Linked DNA regions of Homo sapiens: all the other regions are linked to region 3. Evidence: fine-mapped expression QTL. A gene starts in region 3. Each other region holds a variant in brackets. All regions are shown on one strand. Distances are between the middles of the regions. Region 1 has its middle 5.9 kb from the start of ZC3H18-DT. Region 2 holds the start of ZFPM1-AS1 (ZFPM1 antisense RNA 1). Region 3 holds the start of ZFPM1 (zinc finger protein, FOG family member 1).

What was found. PIP is the estimated chance that this variant, and not a neighbour inherited with it, causes the effect.
Region 1: its variant is the best candidate, but not a certain one, in a credible set for the expression of ZFPM1 in whole blood (Lepik 2017, PIP 0.64).
Region 2: its variant is the best candidate, but not a certain one, in a credible set for the expression of ZFPM1 in thyroid (GTEx, PIP 0.76).

What each region holds. Positions count from the first base shown.
Region 1 is chr16:88,554,719-88,557,468 of GRCh38, forward strand. No RefSeq gene overlaps it. Among named protein-coding and RNA genes, the nearest start is that of ZC3H18-DT, 5.9 kb to the right of the region's middle. The variant T/C (reference allele first, on the strand shown) is at 1,160.
Region 2 is chr16:88,529,014-88,531,763 of GRCh38, forward strand. The region is part of intron 6 of ZFPM1 (zinc finger protein, FOG family member 1); the gene reads left to right. ZFPM1-AS1 (ZFPM1 antisense RNA 1) reads right to left here and starts at 2,040. Exons shown (of 4, transcript NR_148997.1): 1 at 1,919-2,040; 2 at 1,429-1,595. The variant A/T (reference allele first, on the strand shown) is at 1,427.
Region 3 is chr16:88,451,735-88,454,484 of GRCh38, forward strand. ZFPM1 (zinc finger protein, FOG family member 1) reads left to right here and starts at 1,546. Exons shown (of 10, transcript NM_153813.3): 1 at 1,546-1,944. The coding sequence starts at 1,905. RefSeq lists silencers at 1,271-1,570, 1,581-1,670, 2,131-2,260, 2,481-2,550.

The sequences.
Region 1 (2,750 bases), 100 kb after region 3:
AGGAGGAGAGACTCGAACCTGGAGGTTATGGGCGAGTTCACACCAGGCCCCTGCCCTTGCCTTGTATCTCAGGGACCCAGTCTCTGTCCCAGCCCTCCTCCCTACTCCTTCCGCTGGTCCCGCCTCAGCCAGGCCCCTGGGAGCATTCGAGTCCTCATCTGAAGACCCGCAGCAGCAACCTCGGCCCCACCCCCAGCCCAGCTGGGCCTCCCTGACACAGCCTTCCCGCCTCCTCTCTTGAGCAGGGATGGGCAGTGGGCAGCTGGGAGGCAGGGAGACAGGGACAAAGGACTCCCCTTCCAGGGCTGGTCCAAGCCCCTCCATGCTGGCGCCAAAGGCCTGGTTGGCTTTGAGGGAGGCCCTGCAGCTCCCAGCCTCCCCGCTCCCTCCCACAGCTGCCAACCCTCCACCAGGGAACCCTTGTCTGAGCCAGGGGCCACCGCCCTTCCCCACGGCCCCATTCCTCCAGCCTTGCAAGGCGCCAAGCAAGGGGCATCTCTCTCCCTCGGGCCTCATCCTGCACGCCTGACCTTTCCCATCCCAGGTGTTATCATAACCTTTTAGCAGAATTTTGCCTTAATTCTCAGCATTTTTGGCTTTCTTTTTTTTTTTTTTTTGATAGAGTTTCACTCTTGTCACCCAGGCTGCAGTGCAGTGAGGCGATCTCGGCTCACTCCAACCTCCGCCTCCAGGGTTCAAGCGATCCTCCTGCCTCAGTCTCCCAAGTAGCTGGGATTACAGGCGCATACCACCACACTCAGCTAATTTTTTGTTTTAAGTAGAGACAGGGTTTCGCCATGTTGGCCAGGCTGGTCTTGAACTCTTGACCTCAAGTGATCTGCCTGCCTCAGCCTCCCAAAGTGCTGGGATTACAGGCATGAGCCATTGCACCCGGCCCCCATCCCAGTGTGTTACCATAAACTTTTAGCAGAATTTCCGCTTAATTCCCAGCATTTTCAGCTCCAAGTCTTAACACTTCCCCTCTGTCTTAATGTGGCTCCAGTGGCCCTTCGTCTCTCCCCTGCCCCTTCCATGCCTCCCGCCCCATCCCCACCCCCTCTGCCCACCCCCTGGCTCCTCTCCACCCCCAGCCCCTCCACAGCTCTTTGTCTCCACCTCTAAGACTGGGGCTCCTGGAAGCCACTGGTCCTCATCTTAT[T/C]ATCATCCTGGTCTCCACGGAGCCCAGGACGGAGACTCACACAGCTCAGTGGAGCGTCGCCAAGCTCGGAGGGCACGCAGCACCCTAGCAGCACCTGCAATGGCACCTGTGCTCTCTCTCGGGAGGAGATGATGGCCCCAGCTCAGGGCCCAGAATTCGCGCCTGACTGTGCCCCCTTCCGGACCTAAGGACCGCCCTCTGCTGTGCTGGGACTGCCTATGTCTAGACAGAGCGGGGCTCACTCCCCGACCCAAAGGGTTCCCCAGAGTGTGGCCCCATCTCCAAGGCCCTGCTGCCCCCACTGAAAACCCGCCCAGCCCATGGTGAGCACCGCAGAATTCACAAGGCGCTTCCTGCAGACACTTTCTCCCAAGCGGGCCATGCCTTCATTGCTACTCAGATCTCCCTAAAGCCACTGATGTGGTTTGGCTCTGTGTCCCCATCCAGATCTCATGTCGAATTGTCATTCCCAAGGTTAGGGGAGGGGCCTGGTGGGAGGTGACTGGATCACGGGGGTGGATTTCCCCCTCACTATTCTCAGATAGTGAGTTCTCACGAGATCTGATGGTTTTAAACTATGCGGCACTTCCCCCGCCCCCCACTTTCTCTCTCTCTCTCCTGCCGCCATGTGAGGACGTGCCTGCTTCCCCTTCACCTTCCACCATGATTGTGAGTTTCCTGAGGACTCCCAGCCATGCTTCCTACACAGCCTGTGGAACTGTGAGCCAATTAAACCTCTTTCTTCATAAATGACCCAGTCTCCAGTAGTTCTTTAGAGCAGTGTGAGCCTGGACTCACACAGTCACCCATTTCCGGGACCTTTACCACCAGGCCAGGCAGCCACCAGTCACTTTACACACAGCATCTCGTTTCCTAGCACCTGGGCGAAAGTGCTGTTTTCAGCTCTACTTACAGGCAAGGATGGAAAACCCAGAGGGTTCAGCCAGCCTCACCTGCTCGGGAGGGCACAGCTGGGCCGCCTGTACTGCCTTAGAAGGAGAAAAAGAGAAATGGAAACAGGCTCCACGCTGGGGGCCACTATTCTTACCTCACCATAACCTCACAAGGACTGAGCACACCACGGGGGCTCAGAAACCAGGGTCCCCGCTCAGAAACTGGTCCCCTCACTCACACGTGATGTGGCCACTGAAAATGGCTGGGTGCCCTGGCCGGGCGTGGTGGCTCAAGCCTGTAATCCCAGCACTTTGGGAGGCCGAGGCGGGCAGATCACAAGGTCAGGAGATCGAAACCATCCTGGCTAACACAGTGAAACCCTGTCTCCACTAAAAATACAAAAAATTAGCTGGGCGTGGTGGCAGGCGCCTGTAGTCCCAGCTACTTGGGAGGCTGAGGTAGGAGAATGGCGTGAACCCGGGAGGCGGAGCTTGCAGTGAGCCGAGATCACACCACTGCACTCCAGCCTGGGTCACAGGCAAGACTCCGTCTCAAAAAAAAAAAAGACATCCATGTCCCTAACCCTAACCCTGTGAACGTGACTGTATGTGGAAGAATGGAAGAAAGGTCTTTGCAGACATGATTGAGTTAAAGATGGAGAGAAAGAAGGCATCTGGACAGACCCGACGTGATCATG
Region 2 (2,750 bases), 77 kb after region 3:
CCATACCTGTGATCCCAGCACCGTGGGAGGCCGAGGCAGGAGGACCGTTTGAGCCCAGGAGTTCAAGGCCAGACTGGGCAACACAGAAGATCCCATATCTGCCAAAACTTTGAAAAATGAGCCGAGGGTGATGGTGCGCCCCGTGCACCTCTGTGGCCAAGGACAGCGCGTGGCCATCGTGGACAGGCACGAGTCACGCAGGGAACACGCAGCAAGTCTGGCTCCGGCCAGCGGCTGGGGCTTCCCAGGGGAACAGGGACGGCACCGGATGGCGTTTGGAGGGGGACGGTAAGACTCAGGTTTAGCTTTGGTGACCACAGAGTCACAAAACTGGAAGAAAAGCGACCTTTGTGAGCAAGTCGGATGTGAAGACGGCTTGAAGTAGGTGGAGGCAGCCAGTGGTTAGGGGCAAAGAGACCTGCAGGGCCAAGTGTGCAGCCACTGGGGGGATGTCAGCCCGTATGAGAGTCAGGGGAGCAGACCCCCACTCTTTGAGTGTCCTGACATCAAGACACCTGCTACATGCAAAAGAGAAGCCACAGAGTCCACTGAGGGACAAGGATGGGGCTCAGAGAGCCCTGGGGCCTGTGGACCCTGGAGTCAGGGGACAGGGGACATCTCCCAAGGTACGGAGAGTGAGCTGAGATAGGTTAGAGGGGGTCCTGGAGGGCGGCAGGTGGTCTGGCACATCCAGGCTGTGGCGAGACCAACAGCAGAGAAATGACTACTGGTCCTGACAGTGCAGAGGTCGCCATGACCCTGACCGAGGCCGCTCCAGGGAGGGTCAGAGAGGAGGCCTGCACAGGGGCCAGCTGGCCAGAGGGGGATGGGCTTGTGTGCCTGGTAGCCAGGACATAATAGCCCATGTTATGTGCTGGTGGGAATAGCTGGTGACACTGGAGAGAACGGGCCGAGCGGCCAGGTCCACACCTAAGCCCAGGTTGGGGGCAGGGGCTGGGCAAGCCACTGCCCCAGGGAGCCAGGAGGTCAGAAGAGAACACGGGCCGCAGGTGACTGAAAGGAGCCGGGAGCAAAGGGGGTCCCCATCTGCCTTCTCCTCTTCCCTGAAGAAGGCACGGAGGGGATGGGAGGCCATTGCACCCCTCCACCAGGATGGAGAGGGGGTGCCCCCGTAGTGTCTCGGGGTGCCCGGGAGACCCAACTCCAGGGGAACACCCCGCTGATAACGCCAGTAAGACAGTGGGGACAGCAGGCTGGTGAGGGTCCCGTCCTCCAGCAGGGTCCTTGCCCACACAGCCTGCGGAGACCACCTCCCAGTCCCTGAGGGGCAGCTGCGGGTGCCCCAGGCTCAGCCTCTGCCTCGGTTTCCCCCTCGCGGGTCTGACATGCCTCATCCCCAGGCAGCAGTGTCCTGGGAACGCTGCTTCGGAAGGACACCACCGTGAGCCACACATCTTGTTGACAT[A/T]CCTGAGTCCTGCCCTAGCACTTCTGCGGCTGCCAGGGCACGGCCGACGCTTGTCTGCTGCTCTGGAAGAGCCGCAGGAACCAATTCCAGGGTCAGATCCAGTTTCATTCTTGAGCCTCCGGCACTCTGGGCCCATCTCGCCTGTGAAGCGGGATGCAGAGGCACCTGCCTGGAGGCCCCTCCGCAGGCCACCAGATTTGGCCTGTGGTCACCAGCAGGCGGGCAGCCTTTCTAAACTGCATGGCCACGGCCCCTCTCCCCACACCCCTGCAGCAAGAGTCCCCCACAATGACCTTGGAGACGCAGAAACAAACCCACCCAGTGGCCTCCCAGGTCTGGGACCCAGCTCAAGGCCTCAGCTGAGAGAGGACAGAGCTGCCTGCAGCCCCCAAGTAAAAGGAACTTGAGAAACAGAAATCAACAGCACAGGAGGGAGATGTGAGCCAGAAAAGTCGTTAGAACAGCGAGGTGGAGGAGGAAGAGCCACCTCACCCAGGCACTGAAATTCCTCCCAAGAGGCAGAGGTGGCGAGCAGGCCGCAGAGGGGAGGGCGCGGGGGTAGGGGCCACCCCTGCGTGATAACTGCAGACTCAGGATCAACATCGGAGAAGCCGGGTGAGAAACCAGCACTAACCTGCAGAGGCAGAAACCAGATATCACATCAGTCTCTAAGTGGAACGGGCTTGAAAGCCAGATAAGGAATCCCAGGGCCCCTGGGTTCCACACGGAGGCCAAGGCCAAGCTGAACAGGTCCTTCCCTTCCCTGTCTTCAGCCAAGGGGCCATGGGCAGATGGGGCAGGGCTCTGGGGCAGAGAACATTCCTTAAACTGCTATAAAGACAAACCGAGAACACGCTAGAGAAGTCCTCCCCTGCTGGCAAAACCACCGTAAGCAGAGTGCAAGCCCCCAAAACTCTCAACAGTTATAAGCAGCCCATTTGGGGTCAGTGTGGTAAATTCGACAAATCTGACCAGCCAGGTGGTCACTGACATGGAGCCGCCCAGGTGTGTGGGCGCATGGGGGCTTCCTAACTTGTGCACTCCTGGTCTCATGCCCACATCCCTAGAACTGCAGTCAGCAGCCATCGTGTGCCTGAGTGCCCAGGGACTGTGTGCGTGGGTTTTCTTTGCAGCCTGGCACTCCCACGCACCTGCACGCACATCTGTACACACACGTTTCCTCTTCCACGGCCTCCCGGGTCCACACGGTCACCCCAGTATGTCATGGATGCTAGCCTCACCTGGCGGTGTCCACTTCTTCCTTCTGCCCCCATGAGGCCAAAGCATCTCCTTATGGGGCTCACCATTGGAAGGGGACCCATAG
Region 3 (2,750 bases):
AGCAGCTGTGGGAAGGCTGTGCCCACTGGACCCTGGCAGAGAGCAGGAAGGGCTGGAGGACCCGTATGCCCCTGGGCAGCTCTCTTGGCCTCCTGGTCTCAGTGTTCCTGTCTGTCCATGGCAGTGGGGAGGGACGGCGCATATCCAGTGTTGTACCCCTGCCTCTCCTACCCACCCGCCACTCTCCTGTACCAGGCTCTGAGGGTAAGCCCCCACTTCTCCCCTTCCTTGGAGCCAGGGAATAGGTCACAGAAGTTGGCACGAGATGGGGTCTTAGGAGCTCCCAGCAGGCTGGCGGGTGGTGTGACAGTCCTGCTGTGCGATGATCTCATCATCAGGTGGGAGGGGTCCTTCCTGTCTGCCCCTGGGCCCACTGACGCCCGTTTCTTATGAGTACGGGGGATGGGGGAGCAGGTAGCAAGTGTAGACCGAGAACATTAAAAGGAGATGATACAACTCAGCTGGGAGTGGGGGACAGCCCCCCAATGCGTGACCTTGAGCAAGTCCCCGAGCCTCCGTGAAGTGGGGCTCTTGAACACACCCCAGAGGGCAACAGTTCTCCATTTCCAGGCCTGAGCTGACAGCACCGCGCCCACAAACCTCGCTGACCTCTGACTGCTCCGAGAGGGGGCTGTGGCCCGGGCGCTGTGGGCAACTCCTTCGTGGGTCTCCTGCGGGGCGCCCTGGAGAGGCTCGGTGAGGAAAGAGGCCCCAAGTGGCAACGCCCAGGGCTGCCGGCTCCCGCGCCCCCTCCTCGATTTCCAGCCTGGTCTGAGCTCACAGGGGAAGACCCGAGATCCTGCTCTCAGTTGGCGGACCCCACCGCAGTCTGGGACGGAAGCCCCCTCCCTGGCCCGAATCCGCTCCACACCCCAAGTCTGGCCCAAGAGAAACGTGGGCGTCAAGGCCTCGGGCTTCCTGAGCCGGTTGTCACTGCCCCCACCGCGCACGTGGAGCGTGCGGCAGAGCCCAGGGGTCTAGGGAGGGACCAAGGGCTGGGGGCGGAGTTACAGTGCGGGGGCGGAGCCTCGGCGTCTCAGGACCCAACCAGGTCGGGTCAGGTTTGGAGGCGGAGCTGGCGCCGAGAGGCGGGGCGCAGGATGCGGTGCCGCGGGGCAGCAGAACAGAACCGAATAGGTCTCAGACTCCCAGCGCGGCCTGGGGACATGACCTCCGGGCCAAAGAGGAGTGGGGGAGGCTAGAGGTCTCCCCGGGGCGCGGGCGGGGCCGAACCAGGAAGGGGCGGGGCATCGAGCGGGGCGGGGACAGTGCCTTGAAGGCCCAGACGGACAGGGGCGGGGCCGCAGCGCTGGGGTCGGAGCCAGCGCCGTAAAGAGCGAGGCGGGCGGGGGCGCGGTCGCGGCTCTGGGGGCGGAGCCAGAGCAACGAAGAGCCGGGCTGGCGGGGGCGTGGCCGCGGCGCTGGGGGCGGAGCCGGAGAGGTGCAGGGCCCGGCAGGAGGCACGGGGCGGGGCCGGAGCGCCGGGGGCGGGGCGGGAGGTGCGGCGGCCGACGACGCTCAGGCCCGGCCCCGCCCCGTGCCTCCAGCCCGCCAGGAGCGCCCTCGCAGTGGCCGCCTGCTCCGCCGCTCGCCGCCCGCGGGTTCCATTGAGAAAAGCCGAGCGGCCGCGGCGGCGGCGGCGAGTGCGCGGGAGCGGAGGAGCCGGCACCCGCCCGTCGGGCAGTCCGCGCGCCCGCAACGCAGGACCGTGGCCTCTCGGGCCTCCGCGGCAGCTCCAGCGGCTCCGGGGCTGGGCGCGCGGGCTGGGGGCGCGGGCCGGGGCGGCCGCGGAGACCGGGGGCCGGGGGCATGAGCGGCCCCGCGGCCCCGCCGCGCCCCCGCCGCCCGCCGCCGCCCGCCCGGGGCTAGAGGCGGCCGCCGGGAGGGCGCGCGGCGCCGGAGACATGTCCAGGCGGAAACAGAGCAACCCCCGGCAGATCAAGCGTGAGTCAAACTTTGCCCGCGGTCCCCTCCGCGCGCCCGACCCCCGCCGGAGCCCAGCCGCCAGCGCCGCCCCCGCCCGTCCCCGCTCTGCCCTGGGCGCCGGCGACCTTCACCCCGCGCCGCGCCCCCCGCGCTGTGCCAAGCGCGCCGTAATCTAATCTCCGCCGGCGGCCTGGGCCCCCGCGTCTCGGCTTGGGCACCGGGGGGTTCAGCCCAGGAGGGGGCCGCCCGGAGGCCGGGAGGAGGGTGTTTGGGGGCGCGGCCCGGGCAGCTCGGCCCCTCGCGGCCTGCCCCTCCCCCGCATCTGCGAGATGGTGCGGCGATAGGGCGGCCCCGATCTGGGCTCAGATAAAGTTTAAAATATTACATTCTGCAAGTCCCGTCCTGATAAGATCGTTCTGTCGGGACGGGCTGAAATTGTGATCTTATCTCGCGCGGTTGACTCTCCCAGGCTTTGTATCTAGAAGCGAAGAGAGAGACCTGGGAGGCAGAGGGGACACCCGGGGCCGCGGAGATGCCTGGCCAAGTGGCAGGCACCGGCCCGCGCCCACCCCCACCGGTGCCGTCGCAGAGCCGCAGGACAGGGGAGGGGGTAGCGCGCAGCTGCCGCAGCCTAGGCACTTGGCTCCAGCCCCCCAGACACCCCCACCCCGTGCCCTAGCGCTGAAGTCCTGAACCCAGGCCCCGCCAGCCTGGTGACACCTCCTGGACCCTGCAAGTGTCCCAGCCAAGGCGGCATGGGCAACAAATGGTGCCCTCGGATGCCCGCGGGCACCCCCTGGCATCCCAATGGGCTGCTCTGAGTC